Linked DNA regions of Homo sapiens: region 1 is linked to region 2. Evidence: fine-mapped expression QTL. A gene starts in region 2. The other region holds a variant in brackets. All regions are shown on one strand. Distances are between the middles of the regions. Region 1 holds the start of HOXA9 (homeobox A9). Region 2 holds the start of HOXA4 (homeobox A4).

Region 1 (5,368 bases), 32 kb before region 2:
ACAAGGCTAGATTTGATCTTTTAATCGTCGTTGGCCACAATTAAAACAAACCCCATCGTAGAGCGGCACGATCCCTTTACATAAAAACATATGGCTTTTGCTATAAAAATTATGACTGCAAAACATCGGACCATTAATAGCGTGCGGAGTGATTTACGCGTTATTGTTCTGCTGGACGGGCACGTGACGCGCACGGCCAATGGGGGCGCGGGCGCCGGCAACTTATTAGGTGACTGTACTTCCCCCCCGGTGCCACCAAGTTGTTACATGAAATCTGCAGTTTCATAATTTCCGTGGGTCGGGCCGGGCGGGCCAGGCGCTGGGCACGGTGATGGCCACCACTGGGGCCCTGGGCAACTACTACGTGGACTCGTTCCTGCTGGGCGCCGACGCCGCGGATGAGCTGAGCGTTGGCCGCTATGCGCCGGGGACCCTGGGCCAGCCTCCCCGGCAGGCGGCGACGCTGGCCGAGCACCCCGACTTCAGCCCGTGCAGCTTCCAGTCCAAGGCGACGGTGTTTGGCGCCTCGTGGAACCCAGTGCACGCGGCGGGCGCCAACGCTGTACCCGCTGCGGTGTACCACCACCATCACCACCACCCCTACGTGCACCCCCAGGCGCCCGTGGCGGCGGCGGCGCCGGACGGCAGGTACATGCGCTCCTGGCTGGAGCCCACGCCCGGTGCGCTCTCCTTCGCGGGCTTGCCCTCCAGCCGGCCTTATGGCATTAAACCTGAACCGCTGTCGGCCAGAAGGGGTGACTGTCCCACGCTTGACACTCACACTTTGTCCCTGACTGACTATGCTTGTGGTTCTCCTCCAGTTGATAGAGAAAAACAACCCAGCGAAGGCGCCTTCTCTGAAAACAATGCTGAGAATGAGAGCGGCGGAGACAAGCCCCCCATCGATCCCAGTAAGTGTCTCCTCCCTTCAAATCCGCCGCCGCCTCCACGCCGGCCTCCCGGATCTGCTGGCCCGCCAGGTTTCTCTCGAGCCTGCCTTCGTCCTCGCTGGAAGCCTCTCGAGTTGGGGCCAGGAGCCAGAAGTTGGTGTTTGGGACGCCTCAGATAGGGCCCCAAGTCTGGAGAGCAGTGAAGAGCGGCCCGCAGGGCTACGGGAGAGGAGGCGGCTGCTGCAGCGAGAGGGGGCGGGGCGGGCACTTCGGGACGAGCCAAGACTGGCCGCCCCTCTCCTTGGCTGCCCAGGCCCAGGACCGAGATACTTTGGGCCGTTCTTCGAAAGCAGTGCAGCCCAGAGAGCCTTTTGTACAACTAGATTGTCCGTGAGCGGCGGCAGCCAGGGCAGCCGGAGCTGGGACGCTGGGGGAGACGGCCGATTCCTTCCACTTCTTGCCTTCGGCCAGTGGCGGCGTAAATCCTGCCAAGATGAGGCTGCGGGCGACCCGGGCCACAAGGGTCCCCATGACAGATTATTCAAATAAGCCACAGACGTGATCAGCGGCCTTAGGGCGCCCTGACGGCTTGCCCAGCTCCGAAGGCCTTCCAGGAAGGTTAAATAAGGAGTGGGGGGCGTAGAGGGACAGGTTGGGAAAGAAAGACGAAGTCAGTGAACGGGACAGAGGAATCCTAATCTTGCTACAGAACACAAGGCAGCATGCTTTCCCTCTGCGTGGCAAGGAGACCTGTTTCCAAATTTCATTCTATACAGCGTTTTGAGAGTGGGAGGAAGGAGAAGGGGGACAAGAGGACAGAGTAGGAGAAAGGAAGGTCTCGGAGGGGAGGGCGAGCCAAAGTTTTACTGCGTGCAATTTTAAGTGACTGTCTGTGCGTCTGTCTGCCAGGGTTCCATTGTGTCCGAGGCCTGACTGCCTTTCCTAACCAGTTCAGCAGAGTTCTGCACTTCGGCCAGAGACCCCATGCAGGAGGCTCATTTGCCCCAGCGGGATGTGCGTCTTCTGCTCCTAAACCCAGTGTTTCTCTTCCCCGCAGATAACCCAGCAGCCAACTGGCTTCATGCGCGCTCCACTCGGAAAAAGCGGTGCCCCTATACAAAACACCAGACCCTGGAACTGGAGAAAGAGTTTCTGTTCAACATGTACCTCACCAGGGACCGCAGGTACGAGGTGGCTCGACTGCTCAACCTCACCGAGAGGCAGGTCAAGATCTGGTTCCAGAACCGCAGGATGAAAATGAAGAAAATCAACAAAGACCGAGCAAAAGACGAGTGATGCCATTTGGGCTTATTTAGAAAAAAGGGTAAGCTAGAGAGAAAAAGAAAGAACTGTCCGTCCCCCTTCCGCCTTCTCCCTTCTCTCACCCCCACCCTAGCCTCCACCATCCCCGCACAAAGCGGCTCTAAACCTCAGGCCACATCTTTTCCAAGGCAAACCCTGTTCAGGCTGGCTCGTAGGCCTGCCGCTTTGATGGAGGAGGTATTGTAAGCTTTCCATTTTCTATAAGAAAAAGGAAAAGTTGAGGGGGGGGCATTAGTGCTGATAGCTGTGTGTGTTAGCTTGTATATATATTTTTAAAAATCTACCTGTTCCTGACTTAAAACAAAAGGAAAGAAACTACCTTTTTATAATGCACAACTGTTGATGGTAGGCTGTATAGTTTTTAGTCTGTGTAGTTAATTTAATTTGCAGTTTGTGCGGCAGATTGCTCTGCCAAGATACTTGAACACTGTGTTTTATTGTGGTAATTATGTTTTGTGATTCAAACTTCTGTGTACTGGGTGATGCACCCATTGTGATTGTGGAAGATAGAATTCAATTTGAACTCAGGTTGTTTATGAGGGGAAAAAAACAGTTGCATAGAGTATAGCTCTGTAGTGGAATATGTCTTCTGTATAACTAGGCTGTTAACCTATGATTGTAAAGTAGCTGTAAGAATTTCCCAGTGAAATAAAAAAAAATTTTAAGTGTTCTCGGGGATGCATAGATTCATCATTTTCTCCACCTTAAAAATGCGGGCATTTAAGTCTGTCCATTATCTATATAGTCCTGTCTTGTCTATTGTATATATAATCTATATGATTAAAGAAAATATGCATAATCAGACAAGCTTGAATATTGTTTTTGCACCAGACGAACAGTGAGGAAATTCGGAGCTATACATATGTGCAGAAGGTTACTACCTAGGGTTTATGCTTAATTTTAAT[T/C]GGAGGAAATGAATGCTGATTGTAACGGAGTTAATTTTATTGATAATAAATTATACACTATGAAACCGCCATTGGGCTACTGTAGATTTGTATCCTTGATGAATCTGGGGTTTCCATCAGACTGAACTTACACTGTATATTTTGCAATAGTTACCTCAAGGCCTACTGACCAAATTGTTGTGTTGAGATGATATTTAACTTTTTGCCAAATAAAATATATTGATTCTTTTCTATTTTTTGCGGGTCTGCTCTTTGCACCTTCTTCTCTGGGTCAGGGGAGCCTATGTAGAGTCTCTGGGTAGGGGCGGGTTGGGGTGGTGAGAAAGAGCCCCAATTTTGCCTCTGGCTGGCTTTCAGGAGCGGGACCTGCCACAACCAGTCCGCCGAGCTAAGCTCTCCCAAACAGGCCAGCTGCCTGGCGGCGAGAAAAAGCTGGGAAACCCGGCGGAGGAGCCAGGCTCCCGGCCTTGTGTCTATGTGCGGGACGGCGGAGAAGCCCCTGAGGAGCTGGTCTGGTCTGGCCAGTAGCAGTGGAAAGACCACTCTCACCTTGGTGCCCCCGAGAAAATTCCCAAACCTGGGCCTTCGTTAGCTTGGTGAGGAAAAGGGGGAGAGGGTGACAGGATAGAGAGCTGGGAGCCGCCTTCTAAGCAGGCTCTGAAGAGGGAAATAGGAGCCCCACCGGCCCAACGTGGCCATGCAGGCAAACATTTTGGGGGCTTGCAAAGGAACAAAGCCCTGCATCCTCGCACCGCCCGCCACCCCCGCGGAGTCCTGCCAGCCTGGCCCAAGAGAATCTGGGTCCTGCACTGCAAGCACCTCTCGAGCACAAGGCCTAACAGAGGCAGGGCTGAGGCAATTGACGAGCCCCTAAGCGCCATAAAAGAAAATGAGGGCTGTTACCGTTTATGGGGTGTAAAGGGCTACGAGGGGCGGGGGGGGGGGAACGGCCACAACTTCGGAGGCCTGAGCGCTTTCCAGATGTGGCCGGAGGGTTCGGCCTCGCTTCCACCCCCTTGCTTCCCTCGCCCGACCCCCTTCCCCCACTCCACGACTTCTGCAAAGTTGGATGTGTTCTAAGCTTAAAAGGGGAACCAGGGCGCGGGTGGATGAGGCGTCCCCTAACCCCCACCCCCACCCCGCCGCCAGGTTGGGACGCCCTCTGTTGTTGCAGACAGAAGGAACTTCAAAGAATAGGCAGTAAGAGTGTGCCATAAAGGCCGGGTCTGCGAACTGTCTGGAATTCGTCCCTTAATGAGTTTACAACTGTCCAGCCCCAATTAGGATATTCCACCAAAGCCCTTTCATTTGTTCATTTGTTCTGTCTGCCGCCGATAAAGCGGCTGCGGAAACACCTCTTTTATTGGCATTGCCTCCTCTGCAGTAGATTCCGGGCTCCACGCAGACTCCCCGGGACCTAGGCCCACGCCCCTCGTTTGGGAGTGGGGTGCGGTGGGCTAGCCGGCGGCTCCCAAAGCTCAGGCCGGCGGAGGTAGCTGAGGCTGCAGTACCAAACGGCGGCCAGCAGATGGCAGTGTGGCTCCATGCAAGAGGCTTCCGCGCCGCCATCTCCCGCCTCCGCGACCCTTGTGAAGTTCCTAAGATGTCGACTTGACACGAGCCTTTCTGGAATGGGAGCCCCAGATTTTAGTGAACAGCCGCCCTATATTTTCTGGGCTGCTCAAGCCTGGCTAGAAGCCTCGCTGGGAAACAAGGAATCGGCGGGGGCTTGCCCGACCCTCACCGCTCGCGCCTCCCTGACCCCATCCCGGGGGCCCAGTGCTGCCGGGCTGCAGCTGTCCGGGCGGCCGCGGGGCTGCAGCTCCAGGCGCGGGCGCGGCTCCAGGGTCACCGTCCTCAGCTGGGACAGGCCTGACACAGCCAGGCGCCAGAGAGCCCCGGCTGACTGGCGGACACAGGAGGAACGCCTGCAGCCCCAGAACTTGATGACCGCCCAGAGGGTGTGCACGGTGCGTGCCGAGGGCTCACACCGTGACCGCGGGGTCCGCGGCCGCCCAGGAGGCCCCCGAAACCTGCGACCTGGGTCAGGGCCCGGCGAGCCAGAACCCAAGACAGAGCCAGGACCCCGGGACTCGGCTGGCTTGAATCGAGACAATAAAATTAGGCGGTGAAAATTGGGCGTAAAGGCAATCTCGGTGTCTGACCACTGTAGGTATAGGGGCCGGGCCGAGTTGGCTGGGAGGAGAATCCTGGGGGACAAACCAGGGACTGCTTTGGTTATTTTTTTAA
Region 2 (5,368 bases):
GGGATTCGAGGACATGATGAAAAGTTATTTCACCTAATGGGATTTTAAGAAAGCTTTTGTTGGGAATATATGTTATCCCTGCACGTGGAAATGAGCAAACGTGCTCACCAGTTTCCTAAGGAAAGGATAACGCTTTCACCCCGCTTGGGACTGGAGCCAGTTGGTGTGTGAGGATTAGCATGCTCCCTCTCTGCTACATTTCAGGGCATCCCATCTTTTCTCAGGCGAGATGCTGCTGGTAAACTTCAGTTTGTTTATTAATTGAGTTAGTTTCTTCCTGGCTTTACTTTGGTGTCTTGGATATTGTGTAAAGGCAAGAGGTATTTTTTTTAAATGTTTTTCAAAAGATTATTTGATTCAATGGAATGATGCTATGGTTTGCAAAGGGAGATTGAGGAAGGTTCAGAAAAGGTACTGAGATTGTTTATTACAGCCATAAATCTTGCAGTAAAATGTCAAAATGTCGGTGTTGAGATAACACTTGGTGGTCCTGGCTCCGTTTGTGTTTATGATACGAACCACAAAGACAAGTTACAGGCCTTGGGGGATTCTGTGTAAGGCCATCTTCCTAAAGTAATAGAATCACACAAAACACAGGCACAGCTAACTCGTTTGGGTTAACCGTATACAAAACAGTGTTTATGTCTCGTTAATACTTAAAAATAGAAACTTGGTACAAGGTTCTGAGGCTAAACAACAGAATTTTGTGTTTTAGTGTCTGTAAATATTAAACAGATATGGTTAAGACCCTAGTACTCAAGGCTGATGACATGAGAAGGAGGGAAGATTTCCTTGTCATGCTTTTTGTCCCCCTGAAACTTATAGGGTTCAGATTTGTAATACGTATGTCTATATATTATTTATATTACATTTTATATAACCTATGTGTATATTATTTTTTCTTGCTAGGGAGAGATATTGGTTCAGGTAGATGTATCACATTCTAAATTTTTCCTCCAGTCTAGAGAGGATGGCTAAAGATTACACTCAGTGTTGATTTCTGTCTGTGGCTCAAATTTCTTTAAAAACAAATTTTCAGGGTGCCTCATGTGAATGGACAGCACTCTTCACACTCATATACACCTAACGTGGAAAATCTCTTTGTACCTCTTCAGGGTGATTCCAGTTAGAAAGCTAATATGATCCCCTTTTTAACCTCTTTTCCTAAATTAGTTTAAAGATTAGTCCCATATAATAGGCTTTATGTGGCTAAGCATTAAGTGACTATCCATCAAATGGATATATTCCAGCATTTAGTAACTCATATGAGTAACCAGTATGAATGAAGATAGAATTGACATTCCTTTTCAAGTGTCTCCAGGCTTAGGAAATAATTTTCCTTGTCTGCGTTCCAGACTCAGTTGTGAGAAGGCTGTTTATACTGCTCTTTGAAAAATCAACTAAGGTGCACCAGCTGAAAAATCCTTGCTTTTGCATGCCAATATGAAAATATTTTTAGAATGGTGACTATGCTAGTTTACACTGCTTTAATTTAGGCTGAAAAGTAGAGGATCTAGATATGTCTACTACTCAGAAAAGAAAGGGAGAAAGCACACAGCACAAATAAGGCATCAGTATTTACTTCAAAGATCAACATTAGGTGGAATTAATAAGTAATTTATTTGTTAATAATGGCGTAATTAGTGTACCCATCAAATTTCAATTACCAAATAGCAGGCAACAGTCTCCTCTCCCTCCTTTCCGGAGCTTCTGATATCGTTAATACGCTAATTTTCAGCAATTCAGAAATTATAGACTGTCCTGCAAATATAACTCTAGCCTCAGATACTGCCTGAGAAAGCAGGATCTAAAAGAGAAAACATGAAATTCTTAGCTGGAAAAGACCCATCAGCGATCAGACCCGGCAAGGTGTTTATTCTACCCTTAGCTTGTTTTTGTTTGGGGATAGTTCTGAAATAGGAAGTTATTGTTTTCAAAGCTCGGTTCTGTGGAGGTGTTGCTTCTATCCATTCCCATCCTTGGGCCACCTTCTCTCTCACAATCGCACCTAGTAAATGCGGGCATATTTAGCTCTCACATCGACAACCCCCGTCAAATTAGATGCTATTACGAAGGTTCCAATTTTTCTTAGGAAAACACGAAACAGATTGTCTCTGAAAGAAGGAAAAAATGAAAAGTGTCCATCCAGTTATAATGGAATGGCCTCGATTTACATCCTTGGGTCGATTTCTCTTAGCTGCCCGCCCACCCTTTGCAGCTTCTGCCAAGCTTCTCAAAGCAAGGGCTCTCAGGCTGACACGCAAGGAGCAGGGTGTGGGGAAGGGGGATCTGCGGTTGAGAAAATGTGTCTGGTGGCCTCTCAGTGGCGTACATAAAAACCAGGATGCCCCTCGGTCCCAACGCCCTTCCTTTCGCCTGTTAGCCTAGAACCCCTGAAGGACACGAAGCCTGACTGGGTTGCGCCCGAGGTCAGCGCTGAGTCGCGGCCGCCAGACAGCCCGAGGCCTAGGCCAGCAGTAGGGCAGGCAGAGGGCTCCCGAGAGGACCTACAGCCTGACAGGGCCTGAATTCCCAGCGGGAACCAAAGCTGGGGGGCTGGGGTCCAAAGCTCCTGCTCCCTCCCCCAGCCCAGGGGCCGGACAGCAGCATCCATCACGCACCCGCGCGTTTCCTGATCCGGGTCCGCGCGCGCGGTGCGCCCATTGGTGGGGGCGCTGCACGTGGGGCACGGGGCGGGGCGCGCGCTGGGCTGGGGAGGAGCGGCTCGAACTTTGGTGGCGGCGTCTGCGGGAGGGGGAGGAGTGGGCACTTGACAGCGGGGGGAGGGGAAGGGCGCAGAGGAAAGGGGGATGGGAAGCGAGGCAGGAGGGGGAGGGGCCTCGGCAAGCCCAGAAAAAACGACAACGCGAGAAAAATTAGTATTTTTGCACTTCACAAATTAATGACCATGAGCTCGTTTTTGATAAACTCCAACTACATCGAGCCCAAGTTCCCTCCCTTCGAGGAGTACGCGCAGCACAGCGGCTCGGGCGGCGCAGACGGCGGCCCGGGCGGGGGCCCCGGCTACCAGCAGCCCCCAGCGCCCCCGACCCAGCACCTGCCGCTGCAGCAGCCCCAGCTCCCTCACGCGGGCGGCGGCCGAGAGCCCACTGCCTCCTACTACGCGCCGCGGACCGCCCGCGAGCCCGCCTACCCTGCTGCCGCGCTGTACCCCGCGCATGGGGCCGCGGACACCGCCTACCCCTATGGCTACCGCGGCGGCGCCAGCCCCGGGCGGCCGCCCCAGCCCGAGCAGCCCCCGGCGCAAGCCAAGGGCCCAGCGCACGGCCTGCATGCGAGCCACGTCCTGCAGCCCCAGCTGCCGCCGCCCCTGCAGCCTCGCGCCGTGCCCCCAGCGGCCCCGCGGCGCTGCGAGGCGGCCCCCGCCACCCCAGGCGTCCCGGCAGGGGGCAGCGCCCCCGCGTGCCCGCTGCTCTTGGCCGACAAGAGCCCGCTGGGCCTGAAGGGCAAGGAGCCCGTGGTGTACCCCTGGATGAAGAAGATCCATGTCAGCGCCGGTACGTGGCGCCGCTTGGGAGGCGCGGGAGGTGGGCCGGGGCTGGGCCTGGGTTCGAGGGTCGGGGTCAGGAGGGAGAGGCTCAGGGGAAGGGGGCCTCGGGAGGGGAGCCCCCATCTGACCCGGGCTGCGGTGAGATGTGGGTATGTGCGCGCCAGCCAGCCGCCTGATCCCAACATGAGAACCCTTTTGTACCCAGGGTCCCTTTATCAGGAGATTTACGAGACGCCAAACTGTTAGGGCAGTAATTATAGCCCCCATAAATTTAATTGCCCTGGCAGAGGCTTCAGGCCATGTGTCTTTGAAGCTTTTCTTCAGCCCCAATGCCCAGCACCATTCTTTATGGCTCTCGGGTGTTTCCCGTTGTCAATAGCCTGTGAAACATTTTCTTTGCCGTTTTATGTATCTTGCGTGAACTTGGTGTCAGGTTATTATATAATGATGATGTCCAATTGCTCTTCCCCACCCCACCTTCTCTCTCCTCCTCCTTTCCCTCTCTTCCGCTCCCTCCTCCTTGGCCTTCTATTTCGGGGTTCTGGGTTTTCAGTTAACCCCAGTTATAACGGAGGGGAGCCTAAGCGCTCTCGAACCGCCTACACCCGGCAGCAGGTCTTGGAGCTGGAGAAGGAGTTCCACTTCAATCGATACCTGACCCGGCGGCGCCGCATCGAGATCGCCCACACGCTCTGTTTGTCTGAGCGCCAGGTCAAGATCTGGTTTCAGAACCGGAGGATGAAGTGGAAGAAAGACCACAAACTGCCCAACACCAAGATGCGATCCTCCAATTCGGCCTCGGCCTCTGCCGGCCCACCAGGGAAAGCACAAACTCAGAGCCCACACCTCCATCCCCACCCCCACCCGAGCACCTCCACACCCGTTCCCTCCTCCATATAATCTTCTAGAGATCTTAACCAGTTTCTATCCCTTACCTGCTTTTCTCTTCTCTTCTCCTGCTCCGTTCCTCATCCACCCCTCCCCATCTGGACCATAATAGACACCAAAACAAACCCAAATTGGTGAAAAGAATAATCAAAAAGAAGACATTATCCGGTTAAGAGTCTGTGCTGGTTGCCACCCAAGAGAGAACAGTTGTCCAGGATGCTGGCTGGTGGAACAACCTGCTGGCCCGAAACAAGGCTGCCAGGTGTGGATACCTGAGAAGGACTACTTGGTATCAAATACTTTTGAGATGGCTACAGTCAGCTAGCTGGACAGCCCATGCTGAGTGGGGACATACACTTGCATCTTTGTTGAAAGCAGAAGAAGACAGACCCTTTCCCCACCTTCCTTACCTCCTCTTCCCCCATTAAGGCAGCTCATCCAAGCTTGTATTTAACTGAATAAATGAGTAGACATTGTGGACCTCACAAGATTATTTAATTCTTAAGATGTGTAGACCTTGATGGTAGGTGTGACATGTTAGTTTTTCTTACTTGCATTTATTTAAGACACTGTTACAGAGATACTGTTGTCCCCTTCTGGGGCACGGTCTTTGGGGAGAGGGGAGTGCATTTAGACTTATGTGGAACTGTACAAATTGTGATGTGGCTACATAGAAAGCCATGTGCTAAGAATAAACTCCATTTAAAAAACATTAAAAATCTAAGATTCATGTGTTTTCTAAGCTTTTCATTAAGAAAACAAAAGTCCTCTGGATTGAGATACTTGACCTTGCATGTAAAAACCTTGTAGATAGCTTGAGCTGGATTCACTTGGATTCTGACGGCTCACATAATTTGTGTGTGAGAGTGTGTGTATGTATGTTCAACTTGAGCTGAACTCTTGTCAAGCTTGGCCTACTGTGGAAAAGTTCCAAAGAGTAGGAAGGCTCTTGAGCTCTGAGAGGGCTCC

What was found. PIP is the estimated chance that this variant, and not a neighbour inherited with it, causes the effect.
Region 1: its variant is fine-mapped to the expression of HOXA4 in whole blood (INTERVAL, PIP above 0.99).

Annotation. Positions count from the first base shown.
Region 1 is chr7:27,160,421-27,165,788 of GRCh38, reverse strand. HOXA10-HOXA9 (HOXA10-HOXA9 readthrough) reads left to right here. Exons shown (of 3, transcript NM_001433944.1): 2 at 822-911; 3 at 1,948-3,351. The coding sequence ends at 2,186. It overlaps HOXA9 (homeobox A9), which reads left to right and starts at 252. Exons shown (of 2, transcript NM_152739.4): 1 at 252-911; 2 at 1,948-3,351. The coding sequence starts at 332. The coding sequence ends at 2,186. RefSeq lists enhancers at 1-838, 839-1,716, 3,228-3,727, 4,602-5,287. The variant T/C (reference allele first, on the strand shown) is at 3,119.
Region 2 is chr7:27,128,268-27,133,635 of GRCh38, reverse strand. It overlaps HOXA4 (homeobox A4), which reads left to right and starts at 2,879. Exons shown (of 2, transcript NM_002141.5): 1 at 2,879-3,518; 2 at 4,065-5,111. The coding sequence starts at 2,903. The coding sequence ends at 4,411. The region is part of intron 2 of HOXA3 (homeobox A3); the gene reads left to right. It overlaps HOXA-AS2 (HOXA cluster antisense RNA 2), which reads right to left. Exons shown (of 4, transcript NR_122069.1): 4 at 4,876-5,368. RefSeq lists a silencer at 2,652-2,721.